Regions from separate parts of the Homo sapiens genome. Here region 1 is linked to region 2. Evidence: fine-mapped expression QTL. Tissue or cell type: whole blood. Region 2 holds a variant in brackets; the other region holds the start of a gene. All regions are shown on one strand. Distances are from middle to middle.

Region 1 (7,855 bases), 140 kb after region 2:
TAAAATCACGTTATGTTTTCTTGCTATTGAGTTGAGTTTCTTAAATGTTTTGGATATTGACCCTTACCAGATGTGTGGTTTGCAATACATTCTCCCATTCCATAGGTTGTCTCTTTACTCTGCTGACTGTTTCCTTTGCTGAGCAGAAGCTTTATAGTTTGATGTAATCCCATTTGTCTATTTTTGCTTTTGTTGTCTAGGCTTTTGGAGTGAAATCCAAAAAATCATTGCCCAGACCCAGACCAATGTCAAGAAGTTTTTCCATTTTTTTTTTCTAGTAGTTTTACAGTTTCAGGTCTTATGTTTAAGTCTTTAATCCATATTGAGTTGATTTTTTTTTTTTTTTTTTGAGACGGAGTCTCGCTCTGTCGACCAGGCTGGAGTGCAGTGGTGTGATCTCAGATCACTACAACCTCCACCTCCCGGGTTCAAGCAATTCTTGTGCCTCAGCCTCCCAAGTAGCTGGGATTACAGGCATGTGCCACTATACCCAGCTAATTTTTGTATTTTTAGTAGAGACGGGGTTTCACCATGTTGGCCAGGATGGTCTCGATCTCCTGACCTCGTGATCCGCCCGCCTCGGCCTCCCAAAGTGCTGGGATTACAAGCGTGAGCCACTGTGCCCAGCCTTGAGTTGATTTTTATATAATTCCGCACAATTTTTAAATGATAAGAATTAAACTAATTCTATTTTAGAAAAGAATTAAGAAATTTTAAATTAATACAATCACTTAATAAATGCTTATTAAATACCTATTATGTGCCAAGATTTGTGCTAGGCACTGAACTTTGATGTAAGTATATTCTTCTAATTTTATTGATGAAGATGTGGTAACTTTAAGCATTTCTCTGGAGGATCTCAAGTCACACAGTGGCACAGCAAGTATTTAAACACTCATTTCTTTGATCCAAAGCTGAGCTCATTGCATTTACTATAATAATTTGGATTACAGATGAATACTTGATTTTACTAAACGAATTACTATATGAGCCCTTTACATAATGGGCTCCCATAGGACTTTACACTTTATTTTTCTTACAAGATTCAGTAATAAATCTATCATGAAAGCCATTTTACCACCGTGCCTTGTGCAGGGTAGAGCTCATTACATGTTGATGAATGAAAGTAGTTCAAGTAGACTTGTTGTTACACATGGCTAGATTAAAGTTCTCTGTTTTAATTTACTCTTTAAGCTTTACATGGCCTATGTGTAAATCCAGGAAAGTAATTCATCTTAGAATTATTGTGAGAAATAAATGAGATAATGCTTGCATGGGCTGGGCGTGTTGGCTCTCTCCTGTAATCCCAGCAGTTTGGGAGGCCAACGAAGGTGGATCACTTGAAGTCAAGCATTCCAGACGAGCCTGGTCAACATGGTGAAATCCCGTCTCTGACAAAAATACAAACATTAGCTGGGCATGGTGGTACACACCTGAAATCCCAGCTATTTGGGTGGCTGAGGCATGAGAATCACTTGAACACTGCAACATTTGAGGTTGCAGTGAGCTGAGATTGTGCCACTGCACTCCAGTCTGGGCAACAGAACAAGACTCTGTCTCGAAAAGAAAAAAAAAAAAGATAAGGCATGTATGGCACCAGGCACTCAATAAAAACTTTTTTTGTTTTTTTTTTTTAAGAAATAATATGTTTAGGTGTATTTAGGCTATAAATTGAGATTTTAGATACACATTGGTGGGTAGATCTAAGAATTATTGAGAAGGGAGAATCATTAGGACCACTGGGGACAAGTAAGAGAAAGGAGTCATTGATAGATATAGATTATAGGCTTGACGTTTGCTGAGTAATGTGTGCTTAATGTGGCTGGGCATGGTGGTTCAAGACTATAATCTCAGCACTTTGGGAGGTTAAGGTGGGAGAATTGCTTGAGCCCAGGAGTTTGAGACCAGTCTGAGCAACATAGCAAGACTCCATCTCTACAAAAAATAAAAATTAGCCAGGCATGGTGGTGCATTCTTGTAGTCCCAACTACTCAGGAGGCTGAGGTGAGAGGATCACCTGAGCCCAGGAGGTAGAGGCTGCATTGAGCCATGTTTGCACCACTGCACTCCAGCCTGGGTGACAGAGCAAGTCCCTGTCTCAAAACAAAACAAAACAAAACAAAACAAAAAAACATAAATGAGGAAGTTAGAAAGGAATATTGGATTGCAGATATAAGGCATCTAGAAAGGGAAGATGATCTGGGGAGAAGAGATATAGGATTTAGAGAGGGAAAGATAGAAATCGTGTATTAGTTAGATGATAGATGGATGAATTAATATATGAACAAATTATTTCAAATTATATTTATTGAGTGCTAGGTACTATGAATTTATTGCCCAAAGGTAGCAGATCCATGAGGGTGGCTATAAATATTTCTATATAAATTTATATGGAATTTCTATAAAAGAGAAGTTTTGGGGTAGCAACCAAGTTGTAAAGGTGTGTGAAGAGGGGTCTGGGTGGGGAAGGGTATTTGTTTTCATTCTGTAATCCCTTAGCACTCTAGATCAGATTGAGAAAATGTCAAATAGGAGGGAGGGGCACTGATGAGATGAGATTACAGATGGAATTAATCCCCATCAGGATAACTCTCAACTCTGCCACTGCACTCAAACACCTATAACCAAACAATAATAAATTAATGAGATACTCATTTTATCAGATCTATAGCATGATAGGAGGGAGGCAGGAGCATTTAATTCTCCATGAAGAGAATGTGTGTGGTTGGAGAGTAGATGAGGGAAAGATTTCACAAAAAGGTGTGATTTTAGTTGATTTTTTTTTTTTAAGATGGAGTCTTGCTCTGTTGCCCAGGCTGCGATGCAGTGGCACAATCTTGGCTTGAATCCGCCTCCTGGGTTCAAGCGATTCTCCTGCCTCAGCCTCCTGAGTAGCTGGGATTACAGGCATGCACCACCACGCCTGGCTAATTTTTGTATTTTTAGTAGAGAAGGGGTTTCACCATATTAGCCAGGCTGGTCTTGAACTGACCTCAGGTGATCCACTTGCCTCAGCCTTGCAAAGTGTTGGGATTATAGGTGTGAGCCACCTGACTCTTATTTATTACTCTTGAAGAAGGTAATTAATATTCTAAATACATGCTCTGAATAAAAGTCTTCAAAGACACAGAGAAGCTGGAGATCTTAGCAGACTGTTCAGAATCTGATGAAGTGGGAGTAATCTGGAGATGAAGGACAAGCAGTGGCCCAATCATGATAGGCTTGCATGTTATGTCAAAAGTTTTGAAATCCATCCTGTTACTGATGGGAATGGCTGGAGAACTTTAGGCACAGGAATGACAATGATAAAATCTTACATAACATTTTTGAGCTACTTATAAGGCTGAGGCAGGAGGATCATTTGAGCCCAAGAAGTTCAGGGCTGCAGTAAGTCACAATCACACCACTGCACTCCAACCCAGGTGACAGAGCAAGGCCTTGTCTTTAAAAATAATAAAATTTAAAACATAACATTTTTGGAAGATCAAAGAACCATACATATGAAAGAAATACAAGCAACATGACCACCGTAGTCCTTTCATTACAAATGGGAAATTATGAAAAAAATAAAGCAAAATCCCTGTTCTCACAGAATTTATGTTCTAATGAATGGGTAGAGGCAGGCGTGGTGGCTCAAGTCTGTAATCCCAGCACTTTGGGAGGCCGAGGCGGGCTGATCACGAGGTCAGGAGATCAAGACCATCTTGGCCAACATGGTGAAACCTGTCTATACTAAAATACAAAAAATTAGCTGGGCGTGGTGGCGCATGCCTGTAATCCCAGCTACTCGGGAGGCTGAGGCAGGGGAATCGCTTGAACCCAGGAGGCGGAGGATGCAGTGAGCTGAGATCAGGTCAGTGCACTCCAGCCTGGGTGATAGAGCGAGACTCCGTCTCAAAAAAAAAAAAAAAAAAAAAAAAAAAAAAAATATATATATATATATATATATGTATATGTATATATGTATGTGTGTGTGTGTATATATATAAATATATGTAAATAAATATAAATATATATAAATACATATAAATAAATAAATATATATATAAGCATACTATGTATGTACTGCGTCGTTTGGCAGTCATTTTGCTAAGTGCAGATGACACAAAGAAGAGCAAAAAGCAACATCCCACTTCTAGAGCTGAGAGTTGCAGCACATGTGAGTGAGGGCTCAAATCCTGGGCCAGGAACCCATGATGGAGAGTTCCATTGCTGCTGGGCTTCATGTGTCTGATTTAGAGTTAATGCAATCCTGTCTGTTGTGGAGAGTGCACGAAGGCATATGAAAAGGGGAGAAGCAGACCGGGCGCGGTGGCTCACGCCTGTAATCCCAGCACTTTGGGTGTCCGAGGCGGGTGGATCACGAGGTCAGGGGTTCGAGACCAGCACGGCCAAGATGGTGAAACCCCGTCTCTACTAAAAGTACAAAAATTAGCCAGGTGTGGTGGCGGGCGCCTGTAATCCCAGCTGCTCGGGAGGCTGAGTCAGAGACTCGCTTGAACCCGGGAGGCAGAGGTTGCAGTGAGCCGAGATCGCACCACTGCACTCCAGCCTGGGCGAAAGAACGAGGCTCCGTCTTAAAAAAAAAAAAAGGCGGGGGAGGAGCAGCATATTCACAGTAAGGAGAAATGACTGTCATTGTGTTTACTGACGTTTCTCTAGGGAAGAAGCCCTGGCCAAATCCCACCCTTCAACCCCCCAGGGGCCTAACAGAAGAATGCACATCCTCGGGAGCTACCTAAATCTACTGAATTACAATGCATATGGGCGGGGCCCAGGAATCTGCAGTTTAATAACGAATATCCCCAGGCCATTGTTATGTACGCTTAAGACCTGAGAACCATTGGCCTCTCCAACCTTTTCTCACTTCACCTATTAAAAGCCCTATTTTATAGAGGAGGAAATTGAGGCATAGGTTAATTAACTTGCTAAAGTCACATGGAACCTAGACCAGCTGGAATCTAGACCAGCTTGAGATACAGTTCTTTTCTTTTTCTTTCTTTCTTTTTTTTTTTTTTTGAGAGACGGAGTCTTACTCTTACTCTGTCGCTCAGGCTGGAGTGCAGTGGCGTGATCTCGGCCCACTGCAACCTCCGCTTCCCGGGTTTAAGCGATTCTCCTGCCTCAGCTTCCCAAGTGGCTGGGACTACAGGCGTGCGCCACCACACCCAACTAATTTTTGTATTTTTGTTTTTTTTAAGTAGAGACGGGGTTTCACCATGTGTTGGCCAGGCTGGTCTCGAACTCCTGACCTCAGACTCGGCCTCCCAAAGTGCTTGGATTACAAGGTGTGAGTCACCGCGCCCGGCCAGCTCTTAGTCTTAAACCCAACAGTACGTTATCTCCTTTTGCTAACTGATTTGTTGCTAAAACTTCAACAAGCACTGGACTTGGAGTTTGAACACTTAGTCTGAGGGCCCACTATGTTCAGTCTAGTGAGTCTGAGCAATTAACTCACATTTTGAATTTCAAGTCTCTCGCCTTAGGCAAAACACCACCACCTGATGCTCACCAGAGGGGCGTGACGCGGCAGCTGGGCAGGGAAGGGATGGGAAGGGATGGGAAGGGAGGCGATCGATAACTCCGGTGTGCCGCTGACTGTTGGATTGGCTCGAACTTCTCCCGCCAGGCCTAACCTACTCCCGCGCACTCCTGGGCCCGCCCAGCCGCCATCTTGGTCTAGGAGGGAGCGCGCCGCACGCGTGAGTAAACAGCCGGAGCTGGGAAAGTCGAGCTCTGGCAGCGTCTGGGTGCTGAGGGGCAGAGGCGGAGAGAACCCTGTCCTGATCTTCCTAGGTGGGATAAATATCGGGGTGACAGTGGTAGGCCGCGGGGAACCCTCAGTCTGCCCACCCTCCGCCCCCTCGCGGCGAGATGCCTCGTTCCCCGGGCTTCTCCCGCCCTCCGCCGATCTCCTCCCTCTGTTGAAAGCTGCCCGGGAAAGTGGTGGCGGGAGCGGGCCCAGGCCCGAATGTGGCGTGGGCTCAGGTGTCTGGTGTCGGGCGCCGGAGGAGGTTCGCGCTGGGGTTTGGTGATTCGGAGGCCTGGGGTGCAGACGCGGCGTGGCTGTGAGGCCCGGGCGGGCGTGCGGGTGTGAGGGCCGGACTCACACTGGGCCGCCGCGGGGCTGTTTCCATCGGTCACTGGATTTTCTCCTCTTCCGGTTCGGGCCTCAGGGTGGCCGACATGACGGCCAGGGGTCAGAGCCCCCTCGCGCCGCTGTTGGAGACTTTGGAAGACCCTTCTGCCTCCCATGGAGGGCAGACTGACGCTTACCTGACTCTGACCAGGTGAGGTCCGCCACGGGGCGTAGCGGAGAGTGGGGCGCTCTATAGTGGGGAGAAAGAAGGTGGTTGGGAGGGGCGCGTAGAATGAATGTGAGTTCTAGAAGTCTAGCAAATGTGAGGACGCCCGAGTCGCGGACGCCTTGGGGGGCGGGGGAGATGTATTCTAGGTGACGTTCCCGGGTACTGCTGCTGCTGCGCTTGAGGTGTGTGTTTGGAACGAGGGAGCATGCACGTGTGTTTTGCAAGCGAGGGATTTTTAAAAGTTTCGGTTGGAAGTAGTTGTTGGAGGAGGGGTCTTCAGTGTAAACCTCCGATGTGTTGGGAAAATGTGGCTACCCAGAGTTTTTTTAACAGAGCAATACACTGATTTTTATTAATTGCAAAATGCTTCAAAGTAATTTTCATAGAAATGTACTAAAGTTTTGTAAAACCCTTTGGAAAGGCTTAGCAAATCGTTAGTAACTAGGAATAGGGATCCCTGTTCTGTCTTTTTGGAGTCAGGTTGTCACAACTTGCATGTACTCGATGTAAAAACTTATTCTGAGGGTTTTTCTACTTTCATTTCTGATATATATTGCATTATATATTCTGTATACCCTTAAGGACCTTACCTACTGGGTCAATTCATTTGCAGGAGTTAGAAAGTAATTTTTAAAAAGATTGTACATGTATTTTTGAGAGTATTTTTTTTTTTCCTGTCAACTACTTAAACTTGTGTTCTTCCTGCTTTTTAAGTCGTATGACTGGAGAAGAAGGAAAAGAAGTAATTACAGAAATTGAGAAAAAACTTCCTCGGCTGTACAAAGTTTTAAAGGTATGTATCTGTTTGTTAAACAGTTTTTCACTTTTGGTAGTTTGGTTTTTTTTTTTGGTTTTGTTTTTTTGTTTTGAGGTGTAGTTTTGCTCTTGTTGCCCAGGCGAGAGTGCAATGGCTCAGGCTCGGGCTCGGCTCACTGAAACCTCCGCCTCTCGGGTTCAAGCGATTCTCTTGCCTCAGCCTCCTGAATAGCTGGGATTATAGGCATCCGCCACCGCCCCGGCTAATTTTGTATTTTTAGTAGAGAAGGGGTTTCTCCATGTTGGTCAGGCTGGTCTCGAACTCCCGACCTCAGGTGATCCGCCTGCCTCAGCCTCCCAAAGTGTTGGGATTACAGGAGTGAGCCACTGTGTCCAGCCACTTTTGGTGGTTTTTAAAAGTTTTGCCAGTTGACTCAAAAGCTTTGAATCTAAAATAACAGCAATAATACTGATTATAATACTCTTTATTGTTACTTAAAGCTTCTCAGGTACTTTCTTAATTACCTTACACGCTTTATCACTTAACTCTCCATGGTTCCATGAGATTATTTCTTAATGATCACTTTGCAGGTGAAGAAATTAATTTAATTTGCCTAAAGTTGCCTAGGGGCACTTGAATCTGAGTTTGTGCTCTTGAAAGCAGAGATCAGAGATTAATCTGTTTTCTTTCCTTTTGGGAATCTACATCTAAGTAAGTGCTTCTAAAATTACAATTGTCTTTGGTCTAATCTAGGTAGCATTAATTTCTTTTTCCTCATTCACCCTCAGTT
Region 2 (11,332 bases):
ATGGCCAAAAAAAAAACCACACAATCCAAACACTACTTGAAATACATGACTTTGGCTTAGAGGCCAAGTGGCAGATAAGAAGAAAATAGTTATCAGAGATTAGAAGGATGGTGACCCACATTATGCAGTATAAAAGTACTTTGTAAAACTGTCATGTGATAGCTTGGAAAGCAAATAATGTACCTAATTAGCTTGTGGTTTTGGGGTTGTTATTTTTTAAGTATGGGAAGCAGAAAGTTATTAGCATTTTTCTGTTATCATTGAGTGCATTTAACAAATAATATAAGAAAGAAATGACTTTAGAAAAGAACTGGCCAGTTTGAAAGCAGGAATGAAAGGGAATAGAGAAAGTCCAGAAATATGAACTTCCAACTTATGGGGCTGGAAGAAACATTTCTCATTCCCAAATAATAAACAATAAAACCAAGAAGCCTGTTGAGTAACAAAGATTGATTAGAACTCCGGTTTATCGCGGGGATCAAATCAAGGTGTAAATCTCTAAATAGATTAGGATCCCTCAGAGCGAAAACACCAATTAAGGTTGTGGAATACAATAAACCCTTTCAACTGGACAAAATAGCTCAAGGAAATGAAAGCAAAAGTGTGGCCTGATAGACCCAAAGTATCTATAATTAAATGAGGAGAGTGAAAGAAGCATGAGGCTAAGAAAGCAGAGAACAGTAGCAACTCTAAAAAGTAAGTCTAGAAAAGAACTGTGGATGTGTAAGCTTACCAGAATAAAATAGACAAGATGCCTATTGAGTTTTTCCATTTTACCAGCTAAATAACCACCACTCCAGACTAAAGAGACCATGACTGTTCAAAACTTTATAACTTTGGTCACAAACATTGACCATAGGAAGTGCACTAGGGAAGCTTTTCAGATTCCAAGAGATTTCAAATGCCCATTCTAGATATGGCCAAGAAGAATAATGGAAAAAGAAGAGTGTTCAACTGGGAGGCGGAGGTTGCAGTGAGCTGAGATCGCACCACTGCACTCCAGTGTGGGCGATAGAGTGAGAATCCGTGTCAAAAAAAAAAAGAAGAAGAAGAATGTTCAAGAGCCATAAGGACAATGAGCAAGAGAATTCTTAGAGAATGGAATCAGGGCCTAATCCAAATTCCACACCCTGGGAGTATGGAGCACACATCTACTGAATGGGATTTCAGAATTGCTTTGGCCCAGTGACGGCTATGTGTCTCCCATTCTTTCCCTTTCCAAGTGTAAGAGTTTATTGCACTCATCTTATTCCAGTTCCGCTACTCTATATTGGATGTGTGAGGGTCTCTGCATAAAGAGGAGTAACATTCAGACCTGATGTAGAGCACTTTGAATTCATGCACTTTGAGTTTAATATCATGATTGGATAGAATTTCTTGTTTTTCTCCCTTAAGGATGAGATGACTACGAGTGTATTTTGTGTGAGAAGACAAATGAACTAAATATTGGTGGTAAGACAGGTAGGCTATGCTGGTTATTATTCTGGCTCAGCGATATCTGTTTCTCCTAACTTTTGATAAGACAGAATTTCCTAGTCCCCATATATATATTTGGATTTAAAATAGAGATATATAAGCATTTATATATATACATGTATTTAGATTTTAAATAGAGATGGGGTCTCACTGTGTTGGCCAGGCTGGTCTCAAACTCCTGGCCTCAAGTGATCCTCCTATTTTGGCCTCCCAAAGTGCTGGGATTACATGGATGAGCCACCATGCCCAGCCCAAGTCCCTTCTATTTGAATAGGGCCATGTGACTATTTCTGACCAATGAGATGTGAGAAGAAATGACAAGAATCACTTCTGGGTCACAGCATTTAATTGCTGATACAAGACTTTCCAGATTTCACATTTCCTCCCCCTCCTCCACCCTCCATGATTCTTGTCTCAAGAATGGAGTCTCTAAGTGATGAGGATAAACAGAGTCCCCCTGCCAACCTGTGCTGGATAATCAGCATGGGTAAGAATTGTTTAGGCCCATGAGGTTTGGCAGGTTGTTTGTTACTGTGGCATTACCTAGCCTGTGCTGCCTGATAAATCAACAAACAGCAAGAGGAACTTGTAATTCCACATATGTATCTATATGACTTATCATATTGGCAATGTCTGGAGTTAGCTCATCTTGGACATACATATGAAGGCCCCTTTCTTAATATTCAATATATTAAACAGTCAATATGTACTTTTGATAAGTTTTCAAAGACAGCTGTCCTTCTGTAAGATCCCTAAAACTCTAGGAATAAGCAGGAGAGCCAATACTTGTTTTCTGACATCCAGCCAGACTGCTCTTGGGTGAGGGTGAAAGGAATCCAAAAGAAAAGTATAATTTTCTAAGCTAGAAATATTTATAAAAAAACACATAGGAAAATTTAGAATTGAATTATCAATTTTACTGCCTGAAGAGGACCCCCCAAAATACAAAAGTGACTATTTCAACTTTGTCCTAAATAAATATTAACATAAAATTCTTCCTGATAGGCAATCTGCCACAGACTATCAACAATACCTTCTGTGCCAGTGAGACTGGCAAAATGGAAATTAAAAAGCTACTTTAAAGTTTTCTTCTTAATATTTTTGAGAGCTTTAAATAGTCATTCTATTTTAAAAAGAATAATAGACACGAGAGATTTGTTTAAATGGTAAATATGAAGATTTATCATAAACTGTAGTTTTTAGGCACCATCTCTCATTCTTTAAAGAAAGGTGAAAATGAGAACTCCTGAGAGTAATGTAACTTTAAAAACTAAAAATAAAATATCAGAAGCAAAACTCGAGCTTTTCCTTTTGTTTGTTTTAGATGCCAGGCAGCATTCAATAGGTTTAGAACCTTTTCTAAAAGCCTTTCATTCTGCCAGCATTTTAATATGAATTTAATTCTGCTGCCAGTTCTTCATGAAACCTACCATGTCAGAATAGAAGTTGTCCAAAGGTTTTTTTTCTATTTTTCTTTTTTTTTTTTTTTTTTTGAGACAGAGTCTCACTGCAACACCCAGGCTGGAGTGCAATGGCACGATCTCAGCTCACTGCAACCTCCGCCTCCCAGGTTCAAGCAATTCTGCCTCAGCCTCCCAAGTAGCTGGGATTACAGGCGCCCACCACCATGCCCGGCTAATTTTTGTATTTTTAGTAGAGATAGGGTTTCACCATGTTGGCCAGGCTGGTTTCGAACTCCTGACCTCAAGTGATCCGCCCACCTCAGCCTCCCAAAGTGCTGGTGGCGTGAGCCACCGCAACCGGCCTAAAGGTTCTTTACCAAAAAGACTTTTACCTTCTCTGAATAGGAATCTTTAATTTTATCATTAAAGTTTCTGCAAGTTAAAAACAGTGAGATGCTAGTAAACTGGGTCTCTTTCCAACTAAACTTAAACCCTTGGAGGGCAGGTACTGTGTTTTTACCTCCAGTCATTCCCCAGCATCGAGCATGATAAGTGATGAGTCACTAACTTTGTATTTACCTCTCTCTCCATGCCAAGGTTTTCAAACTCTTATACCAATTGTTTCCATTGTAAGTGCAAAAGAAAGAAAAAGCTAGTCCTTTACGAGCTCTATTTGGAGAGGGGATGGCTTGGAAGGAATCAAGGGACACTTGGCACTTGGGTGAACAGAAATTCAAGAAAAAGATCACACTCAGCTCTGAGAACCTTTAGAGTTGTGGAGTGAAATGCTATGCACAGTGGTAAATGGTTGCTCTTGAAGTCCTTCGAATCTTCAGTTGAGTTTACAGGAATCACCAACTGCTGAATGTAACTGCCTTTGTTTTGGAAAATGTTAAGAGTCAAGTCTGCATATTGGTGGGCATGGGGCCACAACTGAATTGGCCCACAAGACCATAACAGGATGAGCCAGCACTGGCAGGGGACATCTGAATCACTTAAGGTTGATTTCAGCAGACATGGCACCAATACACATAATCTATAAACAAAACTTTTTATTACAGTGCACTTATTGTAGTTGAAAACATGCAGCACCATTTGAAACAAAGAAGATTCAGAAACATGGAAATAAGTTTTGTATCTAAACATAAATGGATGGTAAAAATTAAAGTTTTCATTTTTTAAGGAAAAGCATATTCATTTTTGTCAAACATTTACAGTAATCCGGGTTAAAAAGCTATAGTTTTCATGATTCTGTTAAGTCTATTCTTCAAAGTATGCTATGTGAGGTTGACCTAGAGAACACTTGACCACATCTACTTCTCCACCTCCATTCTTTGCCCGTTGAAAGTGAATGTTAATTAAATCCTCCACAATTTCTTCATCCATTTGAATGCCTTCCATTCCTGTCAGAAGCACTGTCCTCTTAGATGTTCCTGAAAATATCTAAGAAGGAAAAAATGATAAATAGAAAGATTTCTAAGAGCTTTGAATTACAAAACTTTACATTCATAATCTCTGCTTAATATTTTTTATTTTATCTTAGAAGAGACAAGAAATCTTAGGAAGATTTTCCAAGCAAGAGAATATCCAAGTCAGATCTGAGTTTTAGAAAGAGAACTCTGGTGGCATTATGGAACACAGAGGAAAGGAGGGATGCTCTGGGAACAGAAAGACCAGGTAAAGAGGTAGTCAGAAGTGGAGCTGGCAAGATTTAGTGACCAAATGAATGTTGGAGGTGAAGCAAACTGAAGAGTTAAGTATGAGTTCTAGCTTTTAAGTTGGTGGAGTAGGTAGATGGTGGTACCATTGGATACCTGAGAAGGAAGAGGAAAAGGGAGCAGGTCTGGGGTAAAGATAATGAGTTCAGAGAAAGTAGGCAGGAATTCTTTCTCATGCTCACTGACAGTAGACATATGAGAGAAATGCAACTATGTCTCCATGTACAAAAATAAAAATTGTGCCATTATCTGAGTAATTTCAGTTTTAAAAATTGTATAATAAAGTACAGTTTTGCATTAAAATGCTCCTTCAAAAGACAAACTCATTTTGCACCAAGCAAAAATGAAGTAAAGAAACCATTTTGCTATCCCTCATTGATAAGATGCATAAGTAACAGACTCACAACAACTTTATTTTTTGTGGGGTGGGTTTGGGCAGTGAGTTCTGAAAATGAGAGAACAGAGATGACTTTACCTGATACTTTTTCAAGTGTATTTCTGTGTATGGAGAAACAGTAACTCTATGGCAGGTTTGATTTATATAAAGAGGGTATTCTTTCTTTTTCAAAATCTTGTCAGCCACTAAAAGCAAAACAAAAACAATACTTGTCTTTTTTATATCATAAGCATTTTTAACCAAAGTTAAAACTTCCTTCAAAGAGAACACTATTACAGTAAATATTGAGTTAAAAGATTAATTTTTAAGAAATTCTAAAGCCCACTTTGAAGACTTCACAGTACATAATTTTGAAAACTACAAGACCAAACAATAATGAGGTTTAAAGCCTTCATTCCATCTTGAATTATTCACTGCAGTCAATCAATGCACAAAGGGTTGCAATGTCCTCAGACAGATCTACTTTGAGCTATAAAAAATACCATAGTCTTTTGCAGAAAGTAACCCACTCATCTAACAAGACTGGACTGTTTCCCAGTTTCTCAAAAGCTGTAAGTGAAAACTATGATTAGAATACTATATACATTTTTTTCAATATATTCAATAAACTGAAGTAATGATGTTAACCAAAGCAGGGAGGGGATTGAATGTCATCTAGAAAAACTGAAAGGAAATAAAAATTCATCAGTTTTCTACAACACAAAGAATAGTCTATTTTTTAGCAGTATTTTTTTCTCCTAGAGTGGTGAAAGGATGTGTGTCAAGACTGTAACATTTAACAAAAACAGTTCTTGGGAATATACAACCATGTTTTTTATGACTCTTCTCACTCATCTACCTTGGATCAGCAATATGGTACAATGATTAAGAGTGTAGGCCCTCATTGGCGAGAATATGGAGAAATTGAAACCCTGAGGCAATGCTGATAGAAATGTAAAATGGTACAGCCACTGTAGAAAACAGTATGACAGTTCCCCAAAATATTAAAATAGAACATGATATGATCCAGCAATTCAACTTCTGGGTATATACCCGAAACAACTGAAAGCAGGGACTCGGACAGATACTTGCTCGTTAATGCTCAGAGCAGTATTTTTCACAATAGGCAAAAGGTGGAAGCAACCCAAGCATCCACCAACAGATGAACAGATCAACAAAATGGATATATAAAATACACACACACACAGAGAATATTATTCAGCCTTTAAAAAGGATGAAATTCTGATACATACCACAACATGGATGGACCCTGATAACATTATGCTAACCAAAATAAGACAGACAGGAAAAGGACAAATATTGTATAATTCCACTTGAATGAGGTACCTAGAATAGGCAAATTCATAGAGACAGAAAGTAGAATGATGGTTACCAGGGGCTGGAAGAAGAGGTAATGGAGAATTATTGTTAAATGGGTACAGAGTTTCAGTTTGGGGTGATTAAAAAGTTCTAGA[G/GA]ATGGATAGTGGTGATGGTTGTACAACATTGTGAATGTACTTAGTACCCTTGAATTGTACATTTAAAAATTGTTAAAATGGTAAATTTTATGTTATATATATTTTATCACAGTTAAAAAAAAAAAAAAGAGTACAGGTCCTGAGTCAAATAGACCAGCTTCAGTCCTAGCTCTGCTACTTATGAGCTATGTGGCCTTGGATATGTTGCTTGACTTCTTAAAGCCTCAGTTTCTTTTTCTGTAAAATAAGCATAATTACAGTACCTACCCTGTAGATTATTGTGATGAGTCAGTAAGACACAGTTTATGAAGTATCTGGCATATTTATCTCCAGAATACCTTCACATCCTTCAGTAGTTACCTGCTGGATAACCTATAACCTGCAGAAGTATTTTTCCCATCTGGCTAGATGTAACCTCTAGGAGAACATCCCCAGATGGCCCAAGGACACAGGTTCCAAAGCTAGTATTATCTCTCACAGTAGAGTTATAAATTGCATTCTAGTTTATTTTATTTTATTTATTTTATTTCGGTTTTTTTGAGACCGAGTCTCACTCTGTCACCCAGGCTGGAGTGCAGTGATGCAATCTCAGCTCCCTGCAACCTCCACCCCCCAGGTTCAAGCAATTCTCCTGCCTCAGCCTCCCAAGTAGTTGGGACTATAGGCGTGAGCCAGCACATCCGCTAATTTTTGTATTTTTGGTGGAGAAGGGGTCTCGCGATGTTGGCCAGGCTGGTCTTGAACTCCTGGCCTCAAGTGATCCACCCGCCTCCGCCTCCCAAAGTGCTGGGATTATAGGCATGAGCCACTGCGCCTGGCCAGATTTTTTAAAATCCAAGATATAGACAAACTAACACCAAACAGGCTAAATGAATATATGAATTTGGCAAATTAAAATCTGGATGCTTGACTATGGAAGTTTCCACCAAGTTATTGTTCATTTCCAAGACAACATATTACTGTAGCCCTCAAGACCCCTTCCTTTTATAGCTCTCCCTGACACATCCCACCAGGATGTCCTAAACATCATCCAAAAGCTCAGGTCAAAAATGCATATTGGGCCAGGAGCGGCGGCTCATGCTTGTAATCCCAGCACTTTGGGAAGCCAAGGCGGGCGTATCACTTGAAGTCAGGAGTTCGAGACCAACCTGACCAACATGGTGAAACCCCGTCTCTACCAAAAATACAAAAATTAGTCAGGCATGGTGGCATGCACTTGTAATTCCAGCTACTCGGGAGGCTGAGGTGGGAGAATTGCTTGAACCCGGGAAGCGGAGGTTGCAGTGAGCTGAGATAGTGCCACTGCACTCCAGCCCGGGCGACAGAGCAAGACTCTGTCTCACAAAAAAAAAAAAAAAAAAAAAAAAAAAAAGGATATTGACATGTTTTAATGTGCCCAGAGAAAAGCCTGGAAAGACACCCAAATAACCATAACTAACTAAATAGTAGGAGAAAGGGAAGTTTGAGGAAATGTCTCTTTTTGTTTTTTTTTGAGACGGAGTCTCACTCTGTCGCCCAAGCTGGAGTGCAGTGGCGTAGTCTCGGCTCACTGCAACCTCCACCTCCTGGGTTCAAGCTATTCTCCTGCCTGAGCCCCCCGAGTAGCTGGGATTACAGGCATGCGCCACCACACCTGGCTAATTTTTTTGTATTTTTAGTAGAGACGGGGTTTCACCATGTTAGTCAGGCTGGTCTCGAACTCCTCACCTCATGATCTGCCTGCCTCGGCCTCCCAAAGTGCTGGGATTACAGGCATGAGCCACCGGGCCCGGCCGAAATGTCTCATTTTTACTAAATGTTTGCTCTTCTGTATTATTTCACCTTCCTTAAAAAAGCATGTATTACTTTGTCATGAAAAAATCTAATCCATCAATTTTTTTTTTTAATTTTGTTTTTTGAGACAGGGTCTCACTCTGTCTCCCAGGCTGTAGTGCAGTGGTGCAATCACAGGTCACTGCAGCCTCAACCTCCTGGCCTCAAGTAATCCTCCCACCTCAGCCTCCTGAGTAGCTGGGACCACAGGCACGCACCACTATGCCTGGTGATCTCAGCTCACTGCAACCTCCACCTCCTGGGTTCAAGTGATTCTCCCTGCCTCAGCCTCCCAAGTAGCTGGGATTACAGGCACTTGCCACCATGCCTGGCTAATTTTTGTATTTTTAGTAGAGATGGGGTTTCGCCATGTTGGACAGGCTGGTCTTGAACTCCTGACCTCAAGTGATCCGCCTGCCTCCGCCTCCCAAAGTGCTGGGATTACAGGGGTGAGCCACTGCACCCTGCCTATTTGTAGCAATATTATCTTTCCTAGTACTGTCCCTGGAAATAATTTCCTACACTCTACTATTTTATAAGGTTTTTTAAAATCCCCAATTATCATGCTAATACATTCCAAATAAAAGAAGTAGAATAGGAATACTTTCAGAAACAACAGAACATGACTGAAATGGCAGAGTGTCTGTTAACCTTCTACACCCTTGAGTACCTCCAATCTCCACAAACGTGATGACTGCACTCCCGGACTGTCTGTCATAGTCCACGCGGTCCACCTCTCCGCCTCCATTTCGGGACTTTGAAAAGCTCAGCTCTAGTTTGTCTCTCATTTGATCTTCACGCAATGTGTCAGGAATTTCAGTAACATTGATTTTCATTTTAGAAACTTCTACATAAACCTGGAAAATGATTTGATGTTCAGAAATATGGATGAGAGAAGTGCTTGTGATGAACAGAAATCCAAAAAATTTTAATCATCCTGTTACCTGGAATCTGACTCCTGAATTTAATGGAACTGGCTTGGCCGTAACCTCCAGATTTACATCTTTTATCTGTACATGATGTTTACTCATGCTTACCACATTTTGAGCAACTGAAAAATAATTCAGGAAGGAAGTATTAATTTCCAATATTTTAAGAATTGTTATGCTTTTGGTTTAAGAACAAATTATCCTGAATATTTTTAATTTTCTTTAATATTAAAGGGTCTAATTTTAAAAATTTGGCGGGCGGTGATTCCAAGTGATAATGGTCTTGCTACCAAAGTAGAATATATAATTTGGGGGGTCAGGGGGAAGGAGGACCAGATCTCATTCTGTCACTGAAGCTGGAATGCAGTGATGTGATCATAGCTCACTGTAACCTCAAACTCCTGGGCTCAAGAGATCCTCCCACCTCAGCTTCCAGAATAGCTATGATTACAGGTGCATGCCACCACGCCTAGCTAATTTTTTTAACTTTTTGTAGAGACGAGCTCTCACTTTGTTACCCAGGCTGCTCTGGAACTCCTGGACTCAAGCAATCCTCCTGCATCGGACTCCCAGACAAAGTTCTGGTATTATCAGGATGAGCCACTGCTCTTGGTCCCAAAGTAGAATATATTAATGTCAAAGTATATCAGCAAAATCACAATGTAGAAGTTCTCAAGTTCTAGATTCTTCTCATAAGATGAATCTTTTCTCTTATCTCTTAAGAGATAAGCCTAACAATCTTCCAGAATTCATATATTACTTCAGCTCAGCCACATACCCTTCCTTCCACTATTAACAATTACCAGAGGATTCCCCTAGTACATTAATGCACAGCCAGAAAGTGTCCCATGTTCAGTAAGCTGGGAAAACTTTCATGGCTAAGTGTCATTTGTACAATTAGTCTTGATTTTACTTAACCTTATCATTTGTTACTCCTTAATATGTTACAAGCACTAGAGCAATATATATTCATTTGCTCTGTCTTCTCAAGGATTACATGTTAAAGACTACATAGGCTGGAACATCAAAGAGTGAGTCTTTTTTTTGGTCATACTTAATGACGAATTCCACTTTTGCAAAAATGCTCTTGAAATCATTCTTTAAAAAGTTGATAGTCCTGCTATATTGATCACAAAGCTGTCAAGTCTAATTTACCTGTGCAAATGGGAGAGGTTTAGTAAAATGCTAAAAATCACTAGCACTCCAAAAGGCAACTCTATGTCAATTAAAAATGTGAGTGGGCATTTATTTTTAATTGTGTGGCATGAGTTTATAATACTGCAGTTGTTGATATTTGGGGCTGCTATTCCAATGTATCATGAAAATAAGTGACATTCACTCTCTGTCTTATAAAACTTCACATGTGTTTATGACAACCAGACCAGATGGCACCACACCACAGCTGGAGGAAGAGAAAAAAGGGCCAGAAGGCAGGGCCTTGGCCATGTGGGAATTCAACTCACTGTACCAAAATATGACTCTATAACTTGGATGATGGTTTTTTGTTTTTTTGTGTTTTTGTGTTTTTTTGCTAATGACAACAGACAATAACAGAAAATATCAATGAGTAATACTCAGATGATCCTCTTTCCCTCCCACTCTTCCACAAACCCCCAACATCTGGTGATCTGATACAGCTGAGAGGGACCGCTTGTGTCTCAATTGTTGTGACTCTGACAATCAAGAGCCAACTCCTACTTAATTGTGTTTCAAACCTACTGCTGTCCCAGGAGATTGGGAGCTCAGAGCCACGTCAAGCGTAGAAGCAATGATGTAGGTGCTTTTAGAGAATTCCATTTCCAACATTCCCAGGAAATTGCTGTGCAGAAATCCTGCCTCCCAAATCCTCATTTATATCTATCTTTTAGTTATATCCCGATTACCAGTCGCCAGTATGAGTCCTGGACTCCTCTTCTACCTGTAGCAGTAGCTCCAGGGTGAAGGAAAACACACTGGCGATGCATGTCTTCTACGCACAGATACTGTCCTGCTGGAATGCCTTTCAACATTTATTTTCAGGCTACAGTGGTGCACCAGTTTTGAGGAAACATGGGTTATAGACTGTCAGAATATGAGCACTGGAAGGGCTGGGAACACCATCTGGTCCCTCACCACATAACTTAAATAAAAGAACAAAGGCCTG

Evidence for each region. PIP is the estimated chance that this variant, and not a neighbour inherited with it, causes the effect.
Region 1: it holds the start of RIF1, and the variant in region 2 is fine-mapped to the expression of RIF1 in whole blood (TOPMed, PIP 0.95).

Annotation. Positions count from the first base shown.
Region 1 is chr2:151,404,238-151,412,092 of GRCh38, forward strand. It overlaps RIF1 (replication timing regulatory factor 1), which reads left to right and starts at 5,665. Exons shown (of 36, transcript NM_018151.5): 1 at 5,665-5,796; 2 at 6,177-6,290; 3 at 7,023-7,101. The coding sequence starts at 6,187. RefSeq lists enhancers at 4,576-5,274, 5,275-5,973, 5,578-5,737 and a silencer at 4,578-4,872.
Region 2 is chr2:151,266,554-151,277,885 of GRCh38, forward strand. It overlaps NMI (N-myc and STAT interactor), which reads right to left. Exons shown (of 8, transcript NM_004688.3): 5 at 9,205-9,311; 6 at 8,931-9,117; 7 at 5,073-5,179; 8 at 3,917-4,322. The coding sequence ends at 4,140. Among named protein-coding and RNA genes, the nearest start is that of RBM43, 10 kb to the left of the region's middle. The variant G/GA (reference allele first, on the strand shown) is at 6,449.